Linked DNA regions of Homo sapiens. The protein of the gene in region 1 interacts with the protein of each later gene in a pairwise test. Each region holds a gene or a part of one and is shown on either strand. Other genes may lie near its edges.

Region 1 (8,424 bases):
TCTGTGTCCTCGCCCCGTCTTCCCTTTGTGTGTGTCTGTGTCCTCGTCCCGTCTTCCCTTTGTGTGTGTCTGTGTCCTAATCTGTTCTTATGAAAACCCCAGCCAGACTTGGTTAGAGCCTACCCTCATGACCTCGTTTCACCTTAGTGGTCTCCTTAAAGGTCCTGTCTCCATGCATAGTCACATCCTGGAGTACTGGGGGTTAGGACTTCAGCATATGAATTTAGACAATTCAGTCCATAACAGGGGTGCGGGGCCAAGGGCGGCCTTGTGGCTGGCTCAGCCTTCTGTTTCCATGCTGCTCTTAGGATCATGGAACTGGAAGGGACATGAGGAATGTTCCAGCCCAAACCCACCCACCTGCACAAAGGGGGAAACCAAGGTTTAGGGAAGGAAAAGCAGCTGTCCAGGGCCAAGGAGAGGATGTGGCAGAGCCCGAACCTGAGCCCTAGTCCCCAGACTGTGGACGGTGCAGATCCTAGTATTTGGAACAGAGACACATTTCTTCACCTAATCCAAGAATGGGCAATGATGTAGCCACAGAAACATTCATCTCAGACTTACTAGTAACAACAAAATGTTAGAAACCACCAAACCGTGGAAGCCAGTGATGGAATATGAGCCATCTGTTCCATCTCACTCACTCGTTATTCAGCAAAGATGCACAAAATGCCTACTATGAGCTGATACGGTCTGGCTGTGTCCCCACCCACATCTTACCTTGAGTTGTAATAATCCCCACGTGTCAAGGGCAGGGCCAGGTGGAGATAATTGAATCACAGGGGTGGTTTCCCCCATACTGTTCTCATGGTGGTGATTAAGGCTGGCGATAGCTGGTGGTTTTATAAAGGGCAGTTCCCCTGCACACGCTCTCTTGCCTGCTGCCATGTGAGACGTCCCTTTGCCCCTCCTTCGTCTTCCGCCATGATTGCGAGGCCTCCCTAGCCATGTGGAGCTGTAAGTCCATGAAACCTATTTCCTTTACAAATTACCCAGTCCTGGGTATGTCTTTATTGGCAGCATGAGAACAGACTAATACGTGAGCCCACGCTGCTCCAGGCCCTGGGATTCAGCAACAGACGAGAACAACCCAAAATCTATGTTCTCTTGAACTTACATTCTAATTGGGCGGTGGGGAAGATGTATATGAAGTTACTACCCACATGAAGAATTAACTACATATGTAAAGAATTTCTAATGTTAGGAGAAAATGCTTAAGAAAACAGGTTTAATTGGCCGGGTGCGGTGGCTTACGCCTGTAATCCCAGCACTTTGGGAGGCCGAGGCGGGTGGATCACAAGGTCAGGAGATTGAGACCATCCTGGCCAACATGGTGAAACCCCATCTCTACTAAAAATACAAAAATTAGCTGGGTGTGGTGGTGGGTGCCTGTAATCCCCACTACTCAGGAGGCTGAGGCAGGAGAATCGCTTGAACCAGGGAGTCAGAGGTTGCAGTGAGCTGAGATCGTGCCACTATACTCCAGCCTGGTGACAGAGCAAGACTCTGTCTCCAAAAAAAAAAAAAAAAAAGAAAAGAAAAGAAAATAAGTGGCTGGGTGCGGTGGCTCACGCCTGTAATCCCAGCACTTTGGGAGGCCGAGGCGGGTGGATCACAAGGTCAGGAGATGGAGACCATCCTGGCTAACACAGTGAAACCCCATCTCTACTAAAAATACAAAAAATTAGCTGGGCGTGGTGGCAGGTGCCTGTAGACCCAGCTACTCGGGAGGCTGAGGCAGGAGAATGGCGTGAACCTGGGAGGCAGAGCTTGCAGTGAGCCGAGATCACGCCACTGCACTCCAGCCTGGGCGACAGAGTGAGACTGTATCTCAAAAAAAAAAAAAAAAAGAAAAGAAGTTTAATTTAGAAAACAGCTCAGGACAAAATTGTATTTCATATAGGATGTCAACTCTACAGAAACAGTGAGGGAGGCAATGTCGGGAAGTGCCGTCGGTGCCCATCTGTAAGATGTGGGAGAAGGAACAAAGTTTTCCGTCTTCTGCACCTTTTTACTTTCCATGTGTTTTCCAAGTTTTCTTCATTGTGTGCCCTTTTCTTTTGTACTGAAAGATCAAATGGAAAGAAGAGAGCACACTCTGCCTCCAGCGCTGGTAGAAACCCATCACTCCGGGAGAAGCCCGGCGATTCCGTTCTGCAGGGCCACTATCTGCTGCGTGGGATGGGGGTGTCTCCCAGCATCGAGGGAGCTTAGCACAGGCAGCTGCACTGCTGCAGATTTTCCCTGCCTGACTCCACTCTGAATGAGGTGCAGCAGAAGCCAGACCCCCCTGACCCAGAAATTCATCTGAGATTGTATCTGGAGAGGACTGCCGTTGCCCAGGCATTGGCAGTCTCCGCTTAACCTGGTCACCCCCAAGCTCTGCCCTGTTCTTCCGTGATGTGCAGGGTTCCTTCCTAACCTGGCCACTCAAGATCCTTTGACTCTTTATGGTTTCTGTCAATGAGATGGTTTGGGGGTAGATAGGATATTTTGTAGAATCAAGTCTTGAGTTTGATGAACTCTTGGAAAGTTCAATCTTACTGTCCCAGAAAAAGGTGTGTGTCCCTGACTCATGGAAAAGCTGCCTGGCCCGCACCCTGGGCTTCCAGAGCATCATCTGGGTCACGGGAGACCTCTGAGCTCGAGAGGAAATTGGCAAGACTGGGAGATGAAGGGGCCTGTCTTGTCGCTGGCCCTTTAAGCGGGCACTGCCTATCCTTGAAGCCAGATCAGGCTGCTGGCCTGATGCCATCAACCAACCCCAGAGCCTAGATTCCATAGTCCCTTCCCTGCAAAGATACTTAGGGCCCTTCCTTGCTGCACCCCTTGGCTGTGCCTCTGCCTGGGTAGGGCTCCGTAAAACCTACCTTGAAGTGGGGTCTCAGGCTCACACCCAGCCCTGCCACTTGCTAGCATGATCAAAGATAAGACCTCTGTGTCCTTCTTTCCATTGCTGCCCCTCCCCAGAGTCTTGGTAGGGATTGAGGGTCTCATGAGCTGACCAGTCTCTGCCTGGCACGTGGTAGAGGCTCACAGAGGTTGTTAAAATAGTTGCAATAGGAAAACATGGGTCATGTCCTGGGATAGCTCCTAGTGCTTGAGGCTGATCACATGGGTCCTGCAGTCATCCCCGCATGATGGACGCGGCTGTCCCAGTCCCGGGGAAGCCCCGAAAGAGCAGACCTCCGAGGCTCGCACCCAGCACAGAGCAACCCGAGTCGAGCAGTCTTAATTTACTCAAGGAATTTTTCCATCGCCAGGGCTGCTCAGGGTGTCTAGGGTGTCGGGCAGCACCCAGGTGGGACAGGCTTAAATGTCGCAGAGACTGCGGCTCATCAAGTGCCGCCCTGGGGCCCTGGGCCAGATGCTCGTATAGGTTTCCTCCCGGGGTCCTCGCAGCGCTGCTCGGAGCGGCCGGTGGCATCTCTACCTACGGAGGAAGAAATGCCTGCGAGTCCCGTCTGGTGCCTGGTGTCACGTGATTTGTAAATGGCAGCGCTGGGATTTGAACCCCAGTGTGCCCGACTCAGCCGCAACACGCGTATCCCTGGCTAGGCGGGCGCTGTCTGCCTATCCCCTGCCTGCGTGCTTTAGCCGGTGGCTGTGGGGGATTGGTTGCTGCCTCATAACGCGTGGCTGAGTGTTGGTGTGGATAAAGCCTGGCCCGTTTGGGGGCATCATGATGGCGCTTCTTGGTGAGGGTCTCACACAGCCCATCTTCTCGCCTGGGCCGTGGTGTGTTATTCCCATTTTCCAGCTGCGGGACCTGCCAGCACAGAGCCAGGAGGCAGGACAAGACCCAAACCCGCCTCCTATGGGGGTTCCTGCCTAGCGTCATTGCATGGCCTCTGTGACTCACCCTCAGATAGCCTGGGCCTGAGAAGGACTTTCACCACATTGAGCCCATGTGCCCCCCTGGAACCCTGACCCTCTGCTCCGACTCCCCCACCCCCACCCCAAGTCCTGCAATCCCCCCAGGGCCCATCTGTTCCACTGAAGGCAGTGCCTCTCCCCCTGCTTACACAGCCCAGCCCAGCAGCGTCTCCAGCCCCTCGCCTGGACCTCTGTGACCTTGGACAAGTCATCGTCCCTCTGTGCCTCAGTGTACCCATCTGTAAAAACAGGGCCACTGCCATCCTCGGGGTACAACCCTGCTTTCTTCTGACACCACCGCCCCACCCCGCCCACTGTTTGGGTGTGAGGCCTGGCTGCCATTTTAGGGACCCTGCTGCGCCCACCTTTCTCATCTGGCTCTCGAGATGCTCCCAGCTGGGTGAGCAGTACTTGGGCCTCACGCTGAGGGTCTCTGGCGTGGAGGGAGGTGCCTTGCCGCCTGTGGATTAGCAGCTTCTGTGGATGTCTGCCTGGAGCTCGAGCTAGGAGGGCAGCTGGGTCCCTCGCGTCTGTGGGAAGGACTGGGGCGGAGGAGGGGGCTTTGGATTCTGGGACGCTCACTGGTCCTTGTGGGTGCCAGGGCTGGCTCTGGGGCTTCTCGCCATCAGCAGCTTCCAGGCCTACAACAAACAGGTCTGCTGCGGATAACGAGCTGGGTGGCTTCATGTCACTTCCCTTGGCTGAACATTTCCAAATGTGAGGGGGCCAGTCTGGGTGCCTCAGAAGATGCACTGGCTTTGGGGCTGGGCACACCTGGGCTCCAGCCCCAATCGTCACTTGCTAGTTGTGTGTTTCTCCAAGCGGATTGTTTAAATGCCCTTTGCCTTAGTTTCCCCACATAAAAAGTACAGGTGATGACAGCTGCTTTTGAGGGGTTACTGTAGACTCAGAGATGCTGAGTGAGAGTCAAGGGCCTGGGCACGGCAGGCACCAGGGAACGGGCAGAATGGCCTTTGTCACAGCTGTAAATACCCTTCACAGCTCAGGGACAAACCTGACGTCGTGCCCCGTGGGAGCCGCTTTGGCATCATCAGCCACACCCTAGGCTGGGTTCATAGCTTCCCCTCCCCTTCTCTGGTCCTGCTGTCTCCCCTGCCAGCCCCATCTCAGTCCTGGTTACAAGGCTGCAGCCCAGTGCCAGGAGAAGCACCGTCTCCAGAGAGCCACCCAGCTCCCGGTTTTCTCGGCACAGCATCCTCAGGAGGCGTGGTGTCTTGAGTCATCGGTCTCAGCTCGAAGCTTCATTTTAGCTGCATTCTACTGAGCAGCCCCCATCCCAGGCAGCAGCAGTGGCTCCTCCCGCCTCCGGCACGGAGCTCGCACCCTGTGCTGGAAGTTTGGGACTTTGGTTTCTCTGTGCTTAGAGAGACGAGTTAGAGAGACGATCTGGAAATGTGAGTCCAGCCAGCGCACCAAGAAAAGTGCTCAGTGTCACTGCGGCTAGCATGCTGCCTCTGTCCTCGCTGGCGTCTGTCCTCAGGGCACGATGGGGCCTTGTACTGGCTCCCCTGAAAGCCACTCAGGTAGAATGAGAGGAGGCATTTCGTGAACACCCAAGGAGTGGAGGATGTGTGATGGGTGGAACTCCGTCCCCAGTTCAGCATGGCCTCCTCATCTGTCTGCCGTCATTCCATAAGACAGCCTGGCCTGTCTCTCTGACCCTCTGCTTCTGCAGACCTCAGTGTCCCCGGGATCGCACATGGAAAATGACATCAGTTGATGCTGCAGCTGGACACGAAGTGCCCAGAAGGAAGAATTCCAAGGAGCATCCAGACCTTCAACCTGGCAGCCTAGTTTCAAATGCCCTCATGATGTTCCAACCCCTTTGCCCCACAACTCTCTCCATTTAGGCTCCCTGAGTAGGTGCAGTGGGAACTTGGGTGCAGGTGGTTTACCTAGGAGGTGACCCCAGGAAGCACGAGGGAGGTGTGAGGAGGGTAAGGGGGGAAGGGAGGGGAAGCCAGGAGGGGGCATTTGGATGGGGGCCACCACTCTGGCAAGTGGGGACTCAGTCCCACTGGGAGCCTCTGAATCGTCCCACAGAGGGACCGGCTGTGTGGGGTCTTACTCCATAGGCCCCGTCCTGTCTGGGCGCAGGGCCAGTCCTGAGTGTGAGGTGCTGGGGAAGTCTCAGCCTAGGTCCGGGCCTTCTCTGTGTCCAGCAGTCAACAGCCTCCCAAGGGCTCAGAGCTCTTCCAGAATGTCCCTTCTGTCCCTCCACGACTATTTATTAAGCACCTACTATGTGCTGTCTTTGCCCTGATCCCCCAACAGCCTTGCATTCTTCCTGCCGCCTTCTGCCTGCCCCCGCTCCCCTGGAGTCCCTCCTCCTCTCCCTTTCAAGGCTCTGCCGGACTCCAGGGCCTCTGTGAAGCTTTCTTCCCATCTCTAGGCCCTCTGCTTCCCTCCTTCCTCTGAACCTGTGGACACAGACCAAGCTGGGGTTTCCTGTGGAGATTTGTGCCTGCTCCTGCCTGCTCTGCAGCCTGGAGCTGGGACCTGCCCTCTCTGAAATACCTCCTCTTGGATGGTGTTGGGGGGCTGAACAGTGGACTCAAAGGTGCCCATGTCCTAATCCCAGGCCCTGTGACTATGTGACCTCATGCGGCAAAATGACTGTTCATATGCGACTATGTGAAGGATTTTGCCACAGGGAGACTGCTCTGGATTTCAGGGGGCCTGAGGCTTCTCGCTAACGGGAGGCAGGAGGCAGCAGAGAGGAGAGAGAAGTCTCCACGCCTGGCTCTGAGGATGAAGGGAGGGGCCCCACACCAAGAAACTCGGGTGCCCCTAGAAGCTGGAAGAGGCACGGAAGTGGATCTCCCCCGGAGCCTCCAGATGGCCCCAGCCCTACAGACCCCTTCACACTCTGGCTGGATCTGCCCTGGTATCTGGGGACCCCAGATCTCAGCGTGGCCTGACTCTCCGTAGTGTCTGGGGACCCTGGGCCTTGGCACAGCTGGACTCTCCCTGGTGCCTCCAGATCCCGGGTCCTGGCGTGGCCTGATCTCCCGGGTGCCTGCGGAGCCCAGGTTTCTTGGTACATCAGCAGCTCTGGGAGGAGATAGGGGTGGTCTCATGGAGAGGTGGGGGTCCAGGAACCAGCCCAGGCCATGTACCCCCTGAGCCTTGGCCTCCTCATCTCTGTTGGGGTTGGGCTTGTCCTAGAGGATCTTTCCGACTCTGAGTTCCTGTGTGGTTTGGGGCAATGGACACCTTGGGATGTAGCATTTGCTTCCAGGCAAGCAGGACTCTGCTGTGCATGCCCACGGGGGAACGGCTTACGCGCTTCCCCAGTGTGGACCCAGCACCGCGATGTGCTTTCACCCTATAATCCTTACATCAGAGCTCCTTGCTCGGGACTACCAGTATTCCCACTTCACAGGTGAGCAAACGGAGGCCCAGGGAATTAGGTAACTCTCCCGAGGTGATTCGGCTGAGAAGCACCGTGCCAGCTGCAGAACCCGCACTCCTAACTGTGGTGCGCCATGGCCCCCCCGCGTCCTGAGCGGCTCCCTCACCTCCTGTGGGCCCTGCTTCACTGTAGGCCCAGAGCCCCCTCTGGAATCCAGTGGGGAGGCCTCCGCAGGCCCACAGTGCTGCTTAGGTCACCTGCAGCTGCAGCCCTCTCATCCACCAGCTCATCCTCTCCCCTCCAGACACACTGGGCCCTTCAGAACCTGCCTGGCCCAGGGCCCCCACAGGAGAGCTTCTGCTGCACCGCCGCCACGTCTTCCTTTTCTCCCTCTGCCCCTGCCTCCTGCCACTCCAAACCCCTTCTCTGCCGGGGAAGGTGCGCATGGTGGGCTTTGGTGAGGGGTTTCTCCCCCAGCAAGGTCGGGCCACTATCCCTTGTTGCCTGCCCACCTGGGCCTCAGGGAACCACACCAGAGTTTGGGGTTGGTCTGCAGCTGGGCCCTGACTCGTGCCCCTTCTTCTGGGATATTGGGCCTAGGGCTGACTTCGTGATTAAAGGGCGATTCACCCATTAAAGAAAGGGTTTTGTGCAGGTCCGTGCCTCGCTCAGGGAAGATGGCACAACCAGAGTGCTGGGCAAAGGCCACCTGTGAGTGTCTAGGGGCTGCGGTCACCAGTGACCACAAGCTGGGAGGCTTAAAGCAAGAGAAGGCATTTCCTCCCAGCTCTGGAGGCCAGCAGTTCAATGTCAGTGTCCGAGGCTAAACGGCGCTGGCAGCTCCCTCGGGGGCTCAGGGGAGGCTCAGTCCTCACCCCTGCAGCTTTGGTGGCTGCCAGATTCTGAGGTTTGTGGCCACGTTGCTCCAATCTTCAAGGCAGAGTCTTCAAACCTCCCTCAGCTCCATCTTCATGCTACTTCTCCCCTGTGTGTGTCGTCTCCCGCTCCCTCCTCCCCATAAGGACTCTTGAGATTGCACTCAGAGCCCGCCCATAGCATCCAGAATCATCTCCCAGTCTCTAGACGCTTTATGTAAATCACATCTGCAAAGACCCCTCCCCTTTTAACCATATATGTCACAGGTTTTAGCGATTAGATGGGGATATCTTCTG
Region 2 (8,424 bases), on another chromosome or scaffold:
ATTACAGGCGTGAGCCACCACACCCGGCCTGCTATCTCTTCTTGTTTCCCAGAATTATTTTAGAAAATAATATATCAAATATATCAATAAACCCACACCCTTTTTTTTTTTTTTTTGAGGTGGAGTTTTGCTCTGTCACCCAGGCTGTAGTGCAGTAGTGCTGTCTTGGCTCACTGAAACCTCCACCTCCCGGGTTCAAGCAATTCTCCTGCCTCAGCCTCCTGAGTAGCTATGATTACAGGTGCCCGCCACCACGCCCGGCTAATTTTGTATTTTTAGTAGAGATGGGGGTTTCACCATGTTGGCCAGGCTGGTCTTGAACTCCTGACCTCAGGTGATCTGCCCTCCTCATCCTCCCAAAGTGCTGGGATTACAGGTGTGAGCCACCGTGCCCGGCCTAAACCCACATCTTTAGTAATTTCTACGATTTAGATTGGGAGGGGAAGCATGTACAGATGCTTTTTGACTTACGATGTTTATGCTACATTCCATAAACCCATCAGAAGTTCAAAATACTGTAAATCAGGCTGGGCGCAGTGGTTCACACTTGTAATCCCAGCACTTTGGGAGGCTGACCTGGGTGGACTGCTTGAGCCCAGGAGTTCAAGACCAGCCTGGCAACATGGGGAAACCCTGTTTCTACAAAAAATACAAAAATTAGGTGGGTGTGGTGGCATGCACCTTTAGTCCCAGCTGCTCAGGAGGCTGAGATAGGAGGATTACTTGAGCCCAGGAGGCAGAGGTTGCAGTGAGCTGAGATTGTGGCGTTGCATTCTAGCCTGGGTGACAGTGAGACCTTACCTCAAAAAAGAGAAAAAGAAAATACTGTAAGTCAAAATGCATTTAATATACCCAGCCTATTGAACATCATAGCTTAGCCAAACCTACCTTAAATGTGCTTAGAACCCTTATATTAGCCTACAGTTGGGCAAAATCTTCTAGCATAAAGCTAGATGATTTAATAATGAATAATATAAAAGATAATTATTTTACAATAAAATGTCGAATATCTTGTAATTTATTGAATACTGTACTAAAAATAAAAAAAACAATAAATACTTGAAGTAGAGTTTCTACTGAATGCTTATTGCACCATTGTAAATTTGAAAAATCATTACTTTGAGCCCTCATTAAATTGGGACCTTCCATATGTCTGTGCAGTCCACTTTGATCCAATCTCTTCAGGCCTTTTTTTTCTTTGAGACGGAGTGTCACTCTGTCGCCAGGCTAGAGTGCAGTGGTGCGATCTTGGCTCACTGCAGCTTCTGCCTCATGGGTTCAAGCGATTCTCCTGCCTCAGCCTCCGGAGTAGCTGGGACTACAAGCGCACGCCACCACAGCCAGCTGATTTCTGTATTTTTAGTAGAGATAGTTTCACCATGTTGGCCAGGATGATCTTGGTCTCTTGACCTTGTGATTCACCTGCCTTAGCCTCCCCAAGTGTTGGGATTACAGGCGTGAGCCACCGTGCCCAGCCCTGCCTTTTTTTTTTTTTTTTTTTTTTGAGACAGAGCCTCACTCTGTCGCCCAGGCTGGAGTGCAGTGGTGTGATCTCAGCTCACTGCAGTCTCCACCTCCCAGGTTGAAGCAGTTCTGGTTTAGATTTCCTGAGTAGCTGGTACTACAGGTGCACGTCACCATGCCTGGCTAATTTTTGTTTTAGTAGAGATGGGGTTTTACCATATTGGTCAGGCTGGTCTCAAACTTCTGACCTCAGGTGATCCACCCACCTTGGCCTCCCAAAGTGTTGAAATTACAGGTGTGAGCCACTGCGCTTGGCCTAAAGGACATTTTGGGAACCGGTGTTAATGTCTATTGAAACCTTTTATTTTTGGAATATCAGATTTTGAAAGATAAATTGACCATTGGAGGTTATATGTTACATAGGTTTGGGAATTTCCTGTTTCTAGTTTGCTGCTAAACCAGAACTCTGAAGTCTCAATGTTTTTTTTTAAGCCGATAGGAAAGAGAGATTTTCATTCTGAATCTTTGTTTTTCACAGTTGAGGCTTACGAGTAGTCATCTTGTTATTTTTAAAACACTTCATAGTGCGGTTTGCGCTTGTCTGACAGAATGGTTGGGTTGGCTCAATACTTTGATATTTTTCTTTTTCGTCTTTGCCGTAGTATTTTTTTTTTAAGTTATGCATCTAAATCAAGACAGAATCACATTTCTTTGCCCCAAAACCCTTTTGCCTAGAATTATGTTCTTTGGAAACCCTAGCGTTTGAAATAAGTTGCTACTGTGGTAAGGGTAAATTTAATTTTCAGAAAAAAGCTGTTCTGACTTATTTTTCTTCCCCATTTAGTTTTTCCATGGTTTGGACTGGATATCGGTGGAACTCTGGTCAAGCTGGTATATTTTGAACCCAAAGACATCACTGCTGAAGAAGAAGAGGAAGAAGTGGAAAGTCTTAAAAGCATTCGGAAGTACCTGACCTCCAATGTGGCTTATGGGTCTACAGGCATTCGGGACGTGCACCTCGAGCTGAAGGACCTGACTCTGTGTGGACGCAAAGGCAATCTGCACTTTATACGCTTTCCCACTCATGACATGCCTGCTTTTATTCAAATGGGCAGAGATAAAAACTTCTCGAGTCTCCACACTGTCTTTTGTGCCACTGGAGGTGGAGCGTACAAATTTGAGCAGGATTTTCTCACAGTATGCATTTTTTAGCTTATATACAATTTATGGTAATTTGATTGTTAAAAATAATGCCAGTAGCAAGTGGTGAAATAATTTCCATCTCTAATGGAACTTGAATTTTCTTGAGTCAAATGAAGATTAAAGGTACGCTAGTGATAGGAGTTGGCCATCTAGAGGTGGTTGTCTAGTTCAGATGTATGGACGACAATCAGAACCACTAAAAGGGTAGCATTTTATTGCTCCTTTAGTATGAAAAATTAGGGCATCTGCTATACGTTGAGGAAGAAACTACCTAAAAGGAACATCATTAGATCATGAACAATGAGATTGAAATATAATTAAAATCATTTCATGTCATAAAATTGTTTTCAGTCTTGTCTACCACATAATTTCTCTTGTCTCCCTCAGTTGTTTGCTGGCATGTTCACTAACTGAAAAAAATAAGGAACTCTGGTCAAAAGTGGTGTTTTCAGGCTCAGGGCTGGTCTGAGATGGGTGACTGCAGAGCCCTCCTCTCCCAGAATGCTTTCTGATGTGTTCTGTGCTGCACACTTAACTGGAGTCTCGCCACCATGTCTGGCCCCTGGGGAATGCTGCCAGGCGCTCTATCTTGCTTTCATTGAGTGAACACTGGAGAACATTGTGAGCAAGACCTTGAGGCTAGGTCCTTTCAGGGTGGATGGTGGGGGTAGGCCGGAGAACTGACAAATGAATAAGCCAAGATCCTGACCGTCAGGGTGCAATACAGATTGAAAATGTCTTCAGTGACTGACTGTTTTTCTGTTGCTAAATGAGAGAATATTAGTCTGAAAGAGATTCTGCCTTTTTGTTTTGTTTTGTTTTCTTGAGATGGAGTTTTGTTCTTGTTCCCAGGCTGGAATGCAATGGCTCAACACAACCTCCACCTCTCGGGTTCAAGCGATTCTCCTGCTTCAGCCTCCCAAGTAGCTGGGATTACAGGCATGTGCCACCACGCCCGGCTAATTTTGTATTTTTAGTAGAGACAGGGTTTCTCCATGTTGGTCAGGCTGGTCTCGAACTCCTGATCTCAGGTGATCTGCCTGCTTCAGCCTCCCAAAGTGCTGGGATTACAGGGGTGAGTCACCTTGCCCGGCCCAGATTCTGCCTGTTATTCTGCATGTCTTTTAGTAGAGATGGGGTTTCACCATGTTGTCCAGGCTGGTCTGGAACACCTGACCTCAAGTGATCTGCCTGCCTCGGCCTCCCAAAGTGTTGGAATTACAGGTGTGAGCCACCGTTCCTGGCCTCAACTTTTTGACTAACATGCCTTGGAGTTCTTCCCACTTCAGAACATAAAGATCCTCTTCATTTTTGTTTTGTTTTGAGACGGAGTCTCGCCCTGTCACCTAGGTTGGAGTGCAGTGGTGCCATCTCAGCTCACTGCAACCTCTGCCTCCTGGGTTCAAGAGATTCTCCTGCCTCAGCCTCCCGAGTAGCTGGGTTTACAGGCGTGCACCACCATACCCAGCTAATTTTTTTTTTTATCTTTAGTAGAGACTGGGTTTCACCATGTTGGCCAGGCTGATCTTGAACTCCTGACCTTGTGATCCACCTGTCTCAGCCTCCCAAAGTGCTGGGATTATAGGCGTGAGCCACCGTGCCCGGCCGATCCTCTTCATTTTTAGTTGCTATACAGTGCTCCATAATACGAATAATAATTTAGTCATTCCTTTATTATTTAAATGGAATTAATTGATTATGAAACAGTTCAAATTTTGACTGCTAAAATTCCCCTCCCTCCCAAGAGGCTGTAGCTAGTTTAGATAGTGAAAAAAATCTTACCTTCTAACTGGATACTTTCAGCCTTTTGGCTTCAGTTTGTTAAATAATGTGTGGCCTCTTTTGATACTGCTCCAAAGCCTTGAGATGGTCCTCTGTCACAGTCCTTGTGGCTCCCACCCTGTGTCACAAGGTGGTTTCTGATAGTGCTGTGGCCTGAGCTTGGTATCAGCCCCATTGTCCCTGTAAGCAGAGATCTGAATTTCTGTTTGAAGGTTGATAAATGCTGTGGTTTTTTTTTTTTGTTTTTTTTGTTTTTTTTTTGGTCACACTTATTCAGCTGCTGCAGTAGTTTCTATGTAGAGTGTATTTGGGTCTGTAGTAGCAGGAGTCTGTCTCAGCACTGTGTCCCTAGGTTTGCTCCTAAATCTGTTCTGTAAAGCATGCACAAATAATACACATCTGTGAGTGCACTTTCATGGTTGTTTCACGTAGTGGGGATGCCTTATTGAATGGAATTTTTGTTTCTGTTGGCTTATTAAAAAGTCTGAGTACATTCTTATTTCATTACAGATAGGTGATCTTCAGCTTTGCAAACTGGATGAACTAGATTGCTTGATCAAAGGAATTTTATACATTGACTCAGTCGGATTCAATGGACGGTCACAGTGCTATTACTTTGAAAACCCTGCTGATTCTGAAAAGTGTCAGAAGTTACCATTTGATTTGAAAAATCCGTATCCTCTGCTTCTGGTGAACATTGGCTCAGGGGTTAGCATCTTAGCAGTATATTCCAAAGATAATTACAAACGGGTCACAGGTACTAGGTAAGTTGTATATAAAACTCACTGTTTATTCTTAGTATCCTAACGGGCTGAGTTTTCAGGTATTACATGTAACTACACCTTCAAGAACCTGTTAGGTGAAAGTGTTTCTGGATTATGCAAACAAATGTTTCTCTTTGAAAATTCTGATTTTATGACCTAGTTTTCTTTAATCTCTACTGTTCAAGATTTATTATCCTAGGTGTTTCTTAAAAGATCACATCAGCAGACTCATTGTAGCCTTTGCCCTCAGATAGTTTATGGTGTGCATACACAAAGTAGCTAAAGTTATTAGGCAGCATCTGTAAGGAGAAGGCACGGGAAAGGACCTAGCTCTGAAACCTGTGTAAATTTCATGCTTCCACACACATGTGTGTGTAGAATAATGATGTATTCTATGTATGTGATTTAGAAGTTGATATGTACTGATCAGTAGAAAAATTATTGAGGGAAGGTAGTATGAAAAGAGAGGATTAGCCGGGCGTGGTGGCTCATGCCTGTAATCCCAGCACTTTGGGAGGCTGGGGCGGGTGGATCATGAGGTCAGGAGTTCAAGACCAGCCTGGCCAACATGGTGAAACCCCATCTCTACTAAAAATACAAAAATTAGCCGGGCGCAGTGGCAGGCGCCTGTGAATCCCAGCTACTCGGGAGGCTGAGGTGGGAGAATTGCTTGAATTCAGAGGGTGGAGGTTGCAGTAAGCCGAGATTATGCCACTGCACTCCAGCCTGGGTGACAGAGTGAGACTCCGTCTCAAAAAAAAAAGAAAAGAGAGTATTAGGGCCAGGCACGGCAGCTTATGCCTGTAATCCCAGCACTTTGGGAGGCCGAGGCGGGTGGATCACCAGAGGTCGGGAGTTCGAGACCAGCCTGGCCAACATGGAGAAACCCCATCTCTACTAAAAATACAAAATTAGCCGGGCGTGGTGGCACATGCCTGTAATCCCATATACTTGGGAGGCTGAGGCAGAAAAATCACTTGAACCAGGAGGCAAAGGTTGCGGTGAGCCGAGATCGTGCCATTGTACTCTAGCCTGGGCAAAAAGAGCTAAACTCCATCTCAAAAAAAAAAAATGAGGATTAGATGGAAGAAGAGAATGTTTCGGCTTAAGGGTCAGAGGTCACTTCAGGAAAAACAGGCATCTAGGGATTGGGATAAACAATTTTTTTAAAAAAACAGTTGTGATTTAAATAGAGGAGTAATTTTTTTGTGACAAAACACGTTGCAGGAGGAGTATGTTTGGGGGTGTACTGATAAGCCAGGGTGACAAGGTGCTTGGATGAGAATGACTCAGGGAATGTACTTGGAGAAGGGAAAGGGAGGAGGTGTTAGCATGGCCCCAGGCGTGTCAGGCTAATTTGCACCTGAGGCTCTTCATACTTGGCAGACAGCCAGACTGCACTGGGGACATGGGCCCTGTGTTTTGTACTTTGCATGTTGGCTCACATGCATATGTACCTTAAAGGTGTATATCAGGCACCTTATCTTTTCACAGACTTGTTTCCTACCAGTGGCATTTGCATGATTGGGTTGGATATGTGAATATGGTTTTGGGGTTCATAAATGTTAACTTCTTGTTCTTATTTTTAAAAATGTTATAATACTGTGTTAATTGTTTTTAATCATAGTCTTGGAGGAGGAACTTTTTTTGGTCTCTGCTGTCTTCTTACTGGCTGTACCACTTTTGAAGAAGCTCTTGAAATGGCATCTCGTGGAGATAGCACCAAAGTGGATAAACTAGTACGAGATATTTATGGAGGGGACTATGAGAGGTTTGGACTGCCAGGCTGGGCTGTGGCTTCAAGGTAAGGGGGCATGTGTGTTCTAAGAAATACAGGCGGGCCGGGCGCGGTGGCTCATGCCTTTAATCCCAAAACTTTGAGAGGCCGAGATGGGCAGATCATGAGGTCAGGAGTTTGAGACCAGCCTGGCCAACATAGTGTAACCCTGTCTCTACTAAAAATACAAAAATTAGCTAGGCATGGTGGTGCGCGCCTGTAGACCCAGGTACTTGGGAGGCTGAGGCAGGAGAATCACTTGAACCCTGGAGGTGGAGGGTGCGGTGAGCTCCAGCCTAGGTAACGGAGTGAGACTCTGTCTCAAAAAAAAAAAAAAAAAAAAAAAAGACATAAAATAATAATATTGGGCATATTTTTTAAAAAAGCTCTATTGAGATATAATTTACGTACTATAAAGTCAGCTGTTTGAAGCGTACAATTTAGTGGTTTCTAGTATATTTACAGGATTGTGCAACCATCACTGTAATCCCAATTTTAGGACATTTTTATCATCCTAGAAAGAAACCTTGTGTTCATTAGCTACGACTCTCCATTCCCCCCACAGCCCCTGCCAAACAGTAATTTATTTTCAATGTAGGTTTGCCTCTTCTGAACATTTCATATAAGTGGTATCATACAGTATATGATCTTTTGTGATTACTTCTTCATATAGCATATGTTTTCAAACATTCACATTACAGTGTGAATCAGTACTTTATTCCTTTTTATTGCCAAATAATATTTCTTTTTTCTGAGACGGCGTTTTACTCTTTTTGCCCAGGCTGGAGTGCAATGGCGTGATCTCGGCTCACCACAACCCCCACCTCCCAGGTTCAAGCAATTCTCCTGCCTCAGCCTCCTGAGTAGCTGGGATTACAGGCATGCGCCACCAAGCCTGGCTAATTTTGTATTTTTTAGTAGGGAAAGGATTTCTCCATGTTGGCCGGGCAGGTCTCGAACTCAGGTGATCTGCCGCCTCAGCCTCCCAAAGTGCTAGGATTACAGGTGTGAGCCACCGCGCCCGGCTGCCACATAATATTTCATTACGTGGATAATACTACATTTTATCCATTTATTGGTTGATGAACATTTGGGTTGTTTCCATTTTTTGGTTATAATGTTGAACATTTATATGTAAGTCTTTGTATGTATGCACACACACACACACATATATATATATATATTTTTTTTTTTTTTTTGAGACGGAGTCTTGGTCTGTCGCCCAGGCTGGAGTGCAGTGGCGTGATCTCGGCTCACTGCAAGCTCTAGCTCCTGGGTTCATGCCATTCTTCTGCTTCAGCCTTCCAAGTAGCTGGGACTACAGGTGCCTGCCACCACGCCCGGCTATTTTTTTTGTATTTTTAGCAGAGATGGGGTTTCACTATGTTGGCCAGGATGGTCTCGATCTGCTGACCTCATGATCCGCCCGCCTTG

The links.
Region 2: the proteins of ABLIM2 (region 1) and PANK2 interact in binary tests that used the Homo sapiens proteins (3 or more experiments, as listed by UniProt).

Annotation. Positions count from the first base shown.
Region 1 is NC_000004.12:8,147,390-8,155,813, reverse strand, and holds part of ABLIM2 (actin-binding LIM protein 2), read left to right. Parts: intron 1-8,424. UniProt on the Homo sapiens protein: May act as scaffold protein. May stimulate ABRA activity and ABRA-dependent SRF transcriptional activity.
Region 2 is NC_000020.11:3,905,618-3,914,041, forward strand, and holds part of PANK2 (pantothenate kinase 2, mitochondrial isoform 7 precursor), read left to right. Parts: intron 1-2,308; coding exon 2,309-2,661; coding exon of another isoform or gene 2,662-2,676; exon of another isoform or gene 2,677-3,008; intron 3,009-4,959; coding exon 4,960-5,213; intron 5,214-6,840; coding exon 6,841-7,017; intron 7,018-8,424.